Linked DNA regions of Homo sapiens. The protein of the gene in region 2 purifies or fractionates together with the protein of the main gene of each other region. This does not show direct contact. Each region holds a gene or a part of one and is shown on either strand. Other genes may lie near its edges.

Region 1 (3,651 bases), on a different chromosome or scaffold from region 2:
ATTGCAGGGGAGAGCCACCACGCCGGCCCCAGTGTAACTTGTAAGATTATTGTATTTATGTTATCTAGACAAGGTTTTAATATCCTGCTTTATTTTAAGGTTTTCATCTTAGCAAGGAAAACATCACTGGCTTGGAAATTCACACACTACCAGTTAGTAGCTTTGTGACCTTGAGCTAGTCACTTAACCTATCTGGTCTTCATTTATTTTATCTGTAAAATGGGAGTGGGTAATCTCTATTTTACCTCACTGGGTGGTTGTGAGACCCAACAGATGTAATGACTGAAAAAAAACAACATGCTAAATAAATTAATTTTAGAAAATTACATGAGCTGTTTTGAGGTCATTTTTAAAAGATACAGCTTCTCATTAGTCGTGGTGGTCCATGGGGCAGGGGAGAATTAATGTAAACTAGGTTGAAGGTACAGAGTTATAGAACTTCATAATTTGAAATTGCTGCTTAATTGGTAGTAGAATTTGGGTCTCATTTTTGTCTTTTTAAAGTTACCTTCTTTTTTTGGTATCAGCATGCCAGATACTTGTTTGCCATACATTCTACTGAAAAAACTTGTTAATATGTTTAAAGAAACTTCAAATTCATTTACGTTTTTTATTGACAAAGTACCTGTTCTGGTTTGTGACTCTAATGAAATTGACTTAATGTAAGAGATTACAATTAGGGAATAATGCTTCTGAATCTTGGTCACTGTTTTCTTTACAGAACCTAGGGAACTTTCCCCCCTTTTAAGTGGATGGGTAGGGATCTTTTTGAGCAAATGTGATACCAGTTGCTCCTTTATTTTTTTGTTTGCTATTTGATGGACTCAAGTCAAAACAGCAACCTACTTGGTTTTTTAATCTTCACTGAAATCATTCCTTGCAATTGCCTGTTTGACATGGACTTTTCCCTCATTTAAATCAAGCAAGCACCCACTATGTACAGAAAAACATAGAAGATAAAGGATGTGAAGAACAACTTACAACTCATGTCTTCAGATCACTTCCTCGAACAAGTTTCTACCTGTGATCTTTGTATTTCTGATTAACTGTACTTGCTTCGTTTCTGCATTACAGTATTGCATTTGTTGACATGTGTTGCTTTTGTTTCCCTGATTGGACTGTAGGCTTCCTGAGGGCAAGGATGATTTCATGTCAATGTGGTATGTGTGAAGGTATACTAATAAACCTGATTGGTCTGGGTGAGGTGGCACTGGAGGTGAGGACGTGGGAGGATCGCTTGAGGCTAGGAGTTGTAGCCCAGGCAACATAGTGAGACTGTCTCCACAAAAAAGAAAAAAAAAGTTAGCTGGGCATGGTGGCATGCATCAGTAGTTCTAGGCAACTTTGGAGGCTGAAGCGGAAGTATTGCTTGAACCCAGAGATTTGAAGTTAATAGTTATGATCATGCCACTGGACTCCAACCTGCTTGGAAGGGTTCTTTGACCCCAGCAGATTCTTCAGAATGCTTTCTCTTGGTTGGTTCAGTGATCAGGGCCTCTTCACATCTCCCCTGACTAACGTGCCATTAGAGTGCCTGGATGGATATCAACTGTCACTGCCATGTTTTAGTGTTAAGCCAGTGGATTATTCTGTGCCACTTTTTTCATAGGCCAAGCTTTAGTTAATAAGGCCAAGCCTGAGGAGAGTCCAGGCCAGATAGGGTGGAAGAGTAAAAATCTGGTGGATGTTACAGAATAAATATAATTTTTAGATTGTTGTATATAATCTTAGTGCTTGGTAATTTTTTTTTTTTTTTTTTTTTTTTTTTTTTTTTTTTTTTGAGACAGAGTCTCGCTCTGTTGCCCAGGGTGGAGTGCAATGGCGCGATCTTGGCTCACTGCAGGCTCCGCCTCCAGGGTTCATGCCATTCTCTTGCCTCAGCCTCCCGAGTAGCTGGGACTACAGGTGCCAGCCACCACGCCCAGCTAATTTTTTTGTATTTTTAGTAGAGATGGGGTTTCACCTTGTTAGCCAGGATGGTCTTGATTTCCTGACCTCGTGATCCACCCGCCTTGGACTCCCAAAGTGCTGGGATTACAGGCGTGAGCCACCGCGCCCGGCCAGTGCTTGGTAATTCTTAACGTGTAGTGTAATGTAAGCTTTACTTGTGTATTTTCTTTTGGTACTTGTGTATCATTTCAGCAGCTGTGTTACAGACTTGAAGACATAACCTCAAAGCAGTTGTTCTCTACCTCTCTGCTGGGTTTCTCTGTGCATAATGGATGCTTGCTGTTATTTGTAATAAATAGATAAGTATACCGATGCTAGACCTGTCCCTTGATTTTTCTTTTTTTTTTTTTAAGTAAAATTTAACTCTGCTAATGTCTTGGGTTTTTTAAAAATGTAGTTCTTTAATATCCTAACTTACTGATAGTTTTAGGTTATTGGCAAAAAGAGGTTTCCTAGACTGAAATAAGTCTGTTCAGTCATTTTTCTCTGAGGCCTTTTAGATTTTGGTTGTTTATTGTGATTTCAGTGATTTCATTAAACTGAATTGGATAGAAGAAAAAGGAACTTACCCATTATTCAGGCTTACCTGCTTTGTCTTGAGAGTGCAGAAGCTATTGGCAGTAGTCAGTTTCATGGTTATGCTTGTTCGTTTGTTGAGACAGAGTCTCACTTTTGTCACCCAGGCTGGAGTGCAGTGGCGCGATCTCGGCTCACTGCAACCTCCACCTTCCAGGTTCAAGTGATTCTCCTGCCTCAGCCTCCCAAATACTGGGATCACAGACGGGCACCTCCACACTTGGCTATCATGGTTATGCTTGATTTAAAAAGTCATTCAAATGGTCTAGAGTGAAAAATACCTGCTACTGTGTGTTTTCCTTAATAGCACTGTTCAAGTGATTATCTGATTTGAAGGCAAGACTTAGGTTCCAATCCTGGCTATGCATTTCCCATCTTTGTAACCTTGGGCAAATAATTTAACTTAGTACTTTGTGAGCTTCAAGTGCCTAATCTGAAAAATTTGATTATTACCACCTAATGTAGAGTCAGTTGTCATTTATATGCTAGACATTCTGTATTTAGATTAGGCTCCACAGATGAATTGGAACACAAGGCCCTTTCTCCACTTGTTTACAGTACTGTGGACCATTGCCTCATTTGTTAAAACTCTTTTAACTCGAACATACCTCTGTTATATGCATAGGTATCCTACTTGAAACATTTGACCCAGTGGCTCATGCCTGTAATTCCAGAACTTTGGGAGGCTGAGGCAGGAGGATCACTTGAGCCCAGGAGTTTGAGACTAGCCTGAGCAACTTAGTAGAGACCTTGTTGCTACTAAAAGTAAAAAATTAGCTGGGCATGGTGGCACATGCCTGTAGTCTTCAGCTACCTGGGAGGCTGAGGTGAGAGGATTGCTTGAGCCTGGGAGATGGAAGCTGTGCTGAGCTGTAATTGTGCCACTGCACTCCAGCCTGGGTGACCGTGAGACCCTGTCTCAAAAAATTTTTTTTTTTTTTTAGTATACAATAGTATTCCTTAGTTGATTATGAATTCTTTAAAGTCTTTAGCCCTCACCCTTTTTTTAACTTTTATAAGGACACTAATCCCAAGTAGTGTCCCTTTTTATCTCTGCATCTAGCACAGTAGCTGGCCCATGATAGGGATTAAGCGTTTGTTGACAGAATAAGTCTTGTGAAAATA
Region 2 (3,651 bases):
TCAGATGTTAGGGGAAGTACGTCGGCACCCGGGTGGGGATCTTGAATACTATGTCAGGCACCCACAACAAGAGCTTTGGGTGCTTTGTGTCTAGGGCCGGGTACCCTTGTTTCTGCTGCTGATGCCGTGTTTCCAGTCTGGATTTTAGCAAAATTAACTGACCCATCCTTCTATCTGATGCCTGTTTTCTTCTCTCTCATTAGGGAGTTCTGGGTCCAGCTTTTAGCCCACTTATCTGCCTCCAGCTTTCAGCCTACTTATCTGCCTTCCTTAATCTTTTCCCCCTTCTAACCTCTTTTGCTGGCCTGTGCTCCCAGAGTTCCCAGAGTCTGTCTACACAACTCCCTGTATGTCCTTGGCCTAGGAATTTTTTCCTGTGTTTCTCTAACCAGCTCCTTAGAACCTGGAACTTGTTTCCATGGTCTATACTTCTTTTCTCTATTTATCCATCTGTCTTCTGATTGAAAAAAAAAATTATTTATTTTTGAAAATTTTTAAATTTTTATTTATTTATTTATTTATTTAATTTTATTTTTGAGATGGAGTCTTGCTCTGTCGCCCAGGCTGGAGTGCAGTGGCGCAATCTCGCCTCACTGCAAGCTCCGCCTCCTAGGTTCACACCATTCTCCTGCCTCAGCCTCCTGAGTAGCTGGGACTACAGGCACCCCCTACCACGCCCAGCTAATTTTTTGTATTTTTAGTAGAGACGGTGTTTCACCGTGTTAGCCAGGATGGTCTCGATCTCCTGACCTCATGATCCACCCACCTCAGCCTCCCAAAGTGCTGGGACTACAGGCGTGAGCCACCACACCCAGCCATTTTTTTTTTTTTTTTTTTTTTTTTGAGAAGGAGTTTCACTCTTGTTGCCCAGGCTGGAGTGCAATGGCATGATCTTGGCTCACTGTAACCTCCACCTCCCAGGTTCAAGCGATTCTCCTGCCTCAGCCTCCCAAGTACCCGGGATTATAGGCATGCACCACCACGCCCAGCTAATTTTGTATTTTTAGTAGAGACGGGGTTTCTCCGTGTTGGTTAGGCTGGTCTCAAACTCCCGACCTCAGGTGATCCACCCACCTCGGCCTCCCAAAGTGCTGGGATTACAGGTGTGAGCCACCGCGCCTGGCTTTTATTTAAAAAAAAAAATTTGTTTTCAATTTTTTGTTGTTATTTTTTTTGTGTTTTTTTGAGACGGAGTCTCACTCTGTCTCGCCCAGGATGAAGTGCAGTGGCATGATCTCAGCTCACTGCAGCCTCCCCCGCCTGGGTTCAAGCGATTCTCCTATCTCAGCCTCCTGAGTAGCTGGGACTACAGGCATATGCCACCATGCACAGCTAATTTTTGTATTTTTAGTAGAGAAAAGAATTTCACCATGTTGGCCAGGCTGGTCTCAAACCCCTGACCTCAGGTGATTCACCTGCCTCTTCTTCCCAAAGTGCTGGGATTATAGGCGTGAGCCACCACGCCTGGCCTTAATTTTTTTTTTTTTTTTAAAGAGGTGGGGGTCTCACTATGTTGACTAGGCTGGTCTTGAACTTCTGCCTTCAAGCAATGCTCCCATGTCAGCCTCCCAGAGTCCTAGGATTACAGGCGTGAGCCACTGTGCTCAGCCTGAAAAAATATTTACTGAAGCCCTCTTTATGGTAGATGCCGGGAAAATATTGTTAGTTTTTGCTAGACCTTGCTGAGATGGCTTGGGTAGGAAGGCATCTTAGAGACTGGTTGGGGTGGGAGCAGAGCAAAGGGTTTGGAGCCTCTGAAGAGGCTTCTGGTCCCTTAGACTGAAACCATCTTCCATCTTTTTTTTTTTCTTTCTTTGTTTTGAGATGGAGTTTCGCTCTTGTTGCCGAGGCTGAAGTGCAGTGGCACAATCTCAGCTCACTGCAACCTCTGCCTCCTGGGTTCAAGTGATTCTCCTGCCTCAGCCTCCTGAGTAGCTGGGATTACAGGCACCTGCCACCACACCTGGCTAATTTTGTATTTTTAGCAGAGATGGGGTTTCACCATGTTGGCCAGGCTGACCTCCAGCTGGCCAGGCTGGTCTCGAACTCCTGACCTCAGGGGATCTGCCCACCTCAGCCTCCCAAAGTGCTGGGATTACAGGCGTGAGCCACCGCGCCCAGTTCATCTTCCATCTTTTCACCTCCACTGCATAGATGTGCCTGTTATATTTCTGAGCCCCCTTCCCCCAGCATTGACCTTGGGGTGGTGACAGTAGAAGGCTGAAACCAACATAGCTGAAACCTCTGCTTCTCTCACCTGGCAGGTAAAAGCAGCTGTTAAGTATGCCCTTAGCGTAGGCTACCGCCACATTGATTGTGCTGCTATCTACGGCAATGAGCCTGAGATTGGGGAGGCCCTGAAGGAGGACGTGGGACCAGGCAAGGTAAGGACTGGGGTTGTAAATAGAGGTGGGATAAGAGAACTTAGAAGCTGAAGCTAGGGCTGGGGCCCAGCTGGAGGGAATCTGGCATCAGCTTCCTTCCAGTTCCTCTCCCAGAGTTGAGGGTGGGTGAGACCACGTGCTCATGGCTCTTCTCACTGTGGGCCCTGCCCCCTGCACTAGGCGGTGCCTCGGGAGGAGCTGTTTGTGACATCCAAGCTGTGGAACACCAAGCACCACCCCGAGGATGTGGAGCCTGCCCTCCGGAAGACTCTGGCTGACCTCCAGCTGGAGTATCTGGACCTGTACCTGATGCACTGGCCTTATGCCTTTGAGTGAGCCTTGCCAGAGCCTCATCTGGGGAATCAGGGGGTTGAGCAGGATGGTGTTAGTAACTTATTGTAAGTCACAGCAGCAGAGCAGGATAGGAACACTCATTTGCATGCCAAGCTGAGGAGCTTGACATGGGATCTTAGCCTCTTCTGCTACAGCAGCTTAGCTGTAGCTACAGGAGTTTAACTCTGGAAAAAGGAAGGCAGTCTCACATGGTGTGTACCCCAGGGTATGCACCTGTAACCCTCCTGCTCCCTTTATTCATTTAGAAAAGGTGCTGACTTTTCTGTTGAGCACCTGGGGTTACAGTAATAAGTAAGTCTCAGCAGAAGATGTGAGAAGAGCTCACCATTAGTGCCGTGCCCTGTGCTGGAAGAAGGGTGGATAACTCCCTGAGGATGAGTTAAGGAAGACTTCCTAGGGGAGAGGAGATATCTACGTCTAGGAAGAGGAGGGGGCATAGGCATTCCATGTAAACTTAACACCTGGGTTACGATCTGGAAGGATGAAAAAGCATGGCTTTTTTTGGCCAGGCGCGGTGGCTCACGCCTGTAATCCCAGCACTTTGGGAGGCTAAGGCGGGCGGATCACGAGGTCAGGAGATCGAGATCATCCTGGCTAACACGGTGAAACCCCGTCTCTACTAAAAATACAAAAAATTAGCTGCGCGTGGTGGTGAGCGCCTGTAGTCCCAGCTACTGGGGAGGCTGAGGCAGGAGAATGGCGTGAACCCAGGAGGTGGAGCTTGCAGTGAGCTGAGATAGTGCCACTGCACTCCAGCCTGGGCGGTAAAGCGAGACTCCATCTCAAAAAAAAAAAAAAAGAAAAAGCATGGCTTTTTAAAAATTCTTGGCCCTTTGTCCTCTCTGGGATTGGAGTTTGGGACATAGAGTGGCTGGATGGGCAGGTAGGGTAGAAGCCTGGCATTTGTGTCCAC
Region 3 (3,651 bases), on a different chromosome or scaffold from region 2:
GACCAGCCTGGTCAACATGGTGAAACTCTGTCTCTACTAAAAATACAAAAATTAGCCGGGTGTAGTGGTGCATGCCTGTAATCCCAGCTACTCGGGAGGCTGAGGCAGGAGAATCACTTGAACCCAGGAGGTGGAGGTTGCAGTGAGCTGAGATCACGCCACTGCACTCCAGCCTGGGGGACAGAGTAAGCAGAGTGAGACACCATCTCACCAAAAAAAAAAAAAAAAAAGAAATCAAAGATTTAAAGTGAATTCTTTTTTAATTATATACCAAATCCTGGGGTAGGAATAGCAGCTGGATTTAAAGTAGTGAATGCAGAAGTAAATTGGTGGAGCAGGACCAGGAGGAGTTAATCACACCAGCCTATTGATAGTTCTAGCTCCCTATGTTGGCTGCACTGGAATCGGTCACTGTAGCTCACCATTAACCCTCTGCTTGCCCGGCCCCTCCAGGTTCCTGGCTCACGTCAGCTCCTACACAGAGACACCAGTGGTGGCCTGCATCGTGTCGGGGTTCCTGGCAGCGCTCCTCGCACTGTTGGTCAGCTTGAGAGACCTGATAGAGATGATGTCTATCGGCACGCTCCTGGCCTACACCTTGGTCTCTGTCTGTGTCTTGCTCCTTCGATACCAACCTGAGAGTGACATTGATGGTTTTGTCAAGTTCTTGTCTGAGGAGCACACCAAGAAGAAGGAGGGCATTCTGGCTGACTGTGAGAAGGAAGCTTGTTCTCCTGTGAGTGAGGGGGATGAGTTTTCTGGCCCAGCCACCAACACATGTGGGGCCAAGAACTTACCATCCTTGGGAGACAATGAGATGCTCATAGGGAAATCAGACAAGTCAACCTACAACGTCAACCACCCCAATTACGGCACCGTGGACATGACCACAGGCATAGAAGCTGATGAATCCGAAAATATTTATCTCATCAAGTTAAAGAAGCTGATTGGGCCTCATTATTACACCATGAGAATCCGGCTGGGCCTTCCAGGCAAAATGGACCGGCCCACAGCAGCGACGGGGCACACGGTGACCATCTGCGTGCTCCTGCTCTTCATCCTCATGTTCATCTTCTGCTCCTTCATCATCTTTGGTTCTGACTACATCTCAGAGCAGAGCTGGTGGGCCATCCTTCTGGTTGTTCTGATGGTGCTGCTGATCAGCACCCTGGTGTTTGTGATCCTGCAGCAGCCAGAGAACCCCAAGAAGCTGCCCTACATGGCCCCTTGCCTCCCCTTTGTGCCTGCCTTTGCCATGCTGGTGAACATCTATCTCATGCTAAAGCTCTCCACCATCACATGGATCCGGTTTGCGGTCTGGTGCTTTGTGGGTAAGCAACTTCCTTTGGAGCCTTAAGAGTTCCCTTTTAAGGTCTTAAGCATGCTTATCCCAAAATTACCTCCTAGCTGGACTAGGCAACTCCGTTCCCAGAGAAATCTGGCTGGTTCTATGGACCCTTGTGTTCCGCCTAAGAGTCAATAAAGCCAGTTGTCCCCTTTCTGCCTGTAATGTTCTTAGTCATTGGTTCTGGAAAAATGATGTTGATTAATCCATCGCTTTACTGAATTACTGAAAGTTCTTTCTATATCAGGATAATTAATACCAGAAAAAGTCCACTTAAAGTGAATCCACATTTTTAAGGTGACAAAAATAGCATAGTATAATTGGGGTCAGGGCATTTGGATGGAATTTTATCATAGAAACTAAGAATTGTAAAATGAAAAACTATCTTAGATTTCACAAAATTAAATTAAAATAGCAATTATGCTCTCATTTTTAAATGAACAAGGTGTGAATTAAGTGTGGATTTTTTGGCATAATTTTTCTGACAAAATTGAATCATGGCATCATTTAACATCTCTCACTTCATACTGACTTTTGTAAAATATTCAAAAGTTTTTCATATTTCCCAAGGTCCTTTCTTCATTCATTGACATTCCAATCATTCACTTGGGAAGTACCCATCATGCCACCATCCTTACTGATTTTCTCTCTCCTGCTGGTAATAACTAATATGACTCTGTTAGGTCCTCAATTGTCTACAATTTTGGGTGTGAATTCAAATTGTTCTCTAAACTCACTTTCACGGACTTCAAGAAGTCCTGTACCTTCTCTAAGATTTCTAATTTTACTTTGTGATCCATTTCTATTGTATTTGCAGTACTTGCTTATCATCTAGGACAATCTCTGATGTTCATGAGGTGGCTGGGGATTGATGCTAGTAAGAACTTGAGAAGTGTAATGGAAGACTCATTTTAAAGTTCCTTAGTCACTATTTGTATGTCCTCTGAACAACTTGGTAACCCTGGGGTCTCTGATAACAAATTCTTAGCTAAAGAGGATCTTTAGAAGCTCTGGGGAATAGAAGAGTAAACCCTGCCTAAAGGAGAGGCAAGACAAACACACGAGTCACTTAGCCCAAGAGAGGCCAAAGAGACTCTTTTTGTTGTTGTTGTTGTTGTTGTTATTTGTTTGTTTTGTTTTGTTTGTTGTTGTTGAGATGGAGTCTTGCTGTGTCGCCCAGGCTGGAGTGCAGTGGCTTGATCATGGCCCACTGCAACCTCCGCCAACCAGGTTCAAGCAATTCTCCTGCCTCAGCCTCCTGAGTAGCTGATATTACAGGTGAGTGCCACCATGCCCTGCTAATTTTTGTGTTTTTAGTAGAGATAGGGTTTCACCATGTTGGCCAGGCTGTTCTCGAACTCTCAACCTCATGATCTGCCCACCTCAGCCTCCCAAAGTGCTGGGATTACAGGCATGAGCCACTGTGCCCAGCCCACAGAGACTCTTAGTGATGAGTGGCAGTGCATCCACTCCTAGAGATCAGGAATACACTTGTTCAACATGTGTCCTCCGTGTCTGGAGCAGGGTGCCCGCAGTATGTGCTCAAAAATACTTCTTAAATTATTATAAAGTACTCTTCAAAGGGGAAAAAGGAAAACTTCCAGTCAGAATTGCCAGAAAAAACTTGGAGGGGGTAGAATACAAAGTGGCCCTATAAGTTAAGATATAGATAGAAAGAAGTGGGGGAAAAAGTAGCAACCAATGGAAAGGGCATATGTCTTCCCCAGAGGCCTGACTCCTTGCTTCTGAAGGCTGCTCTATGGCTTCCTGTAAGCATTTTGTCCCAATTTTTCACTATTCTAAGTCCCCCTGGTTAGACTTCAGGAGGATTTCTTGAGAGGACCCCACTGACTCATCAAGATTTTAACCAATTTTTATAACACATTTACAATCTCTTGGCTGGGCATAGTGGCTCACGTCTATAATCCCAGCACTTTGGGAGGCCGAGGAGGGCAGATCACCTGAGTTTAGGAGTTCGAGACTAGCCTGGCCTACATGGCAAAACCCCATCTCTATAAAAAATGCAAAAATTAGCCAGGCGTGGTGGCAAGTGCCTGTAATCCCAGCTACTTGGGAGGATGAGACAGGAAAATTGCTTGAACCCAGGAAATGGAGGTTGCAGTGAGCTGAGATCACACCACTGCACTCTAGCCTGGGAGACAGAGCAAGACTCCATTTCAAAAAATTTTTTTAAAAAAATTAATATTTTAAAACTTTTTAAAAAAATACAATCTCTTATCTCTAAACATTTTTCCACTGGAACATGTAGCTAGCCAATGCAGATTCTACTCTGGATAGAAGTGATG

The links.
Region 1: the proteins of AKR1A1 (region 2) and TRIP12 purify together in Homo sapiens (affinity purification with mass spectrometry; one large-scale study listed by BioGRID and IntAct). This does not show direct contact.
Region 3: the proteins of AKR1A1 (region 2) and SLC7A14 purify together in Homo sapiens (co-immunoprecipitation; one large-scale study listed by IntAct). This does not show direct contact.

The regions. Positions count from the first base shown.
Region 1 is NC_000002.12:229,915,510-229,919,160, reverse strand, and holds part of TRIP12 (E3 ubiquitin-protein ligase TRIP12), read left to right. Parts: intron 1-3,651. UniProt on the Homo sapiens protein: E3 ubiquitin-protein ligase involved in ubiquitin fusion degradation (UFD) pathway and regulation of DNA repair.
Region 2 is NC_000001.11:45,564,305-45,567,955, forward strand, and holds part of AKR1A1 (aldo-keto reductase family 1 member A1), read left to right. Parts: intron 1-2,264; coding exon 2,265-2,384; intron 2,385-2,564; coding exon 2,565-2,716; intron 2,717-3,651. UniProt on the Homo sapiens protein: Catalyzes the NADPH-dependent reduction of a wide variety of carbonyl-containing compounds to their corresponding alcohols.
Region 3 is NC_000003.12:170,477,969-170,481,619, reverse strand, and holds part of SLC7A14 (solute carrier family 7 member 14), read left to right. Parts: intron 1-453; coding exon 454-1,331; intron 1,332-3,651. UniProt on the Homo sapiens protein: Imports 4-aminobutanoate (GABA) into lysosomes. May act as a GABA sensor that regulates mTORC2-dependent INS signaling and gluconeogenesis. The transport mechanism and substrate selectivity remain to be elucidated.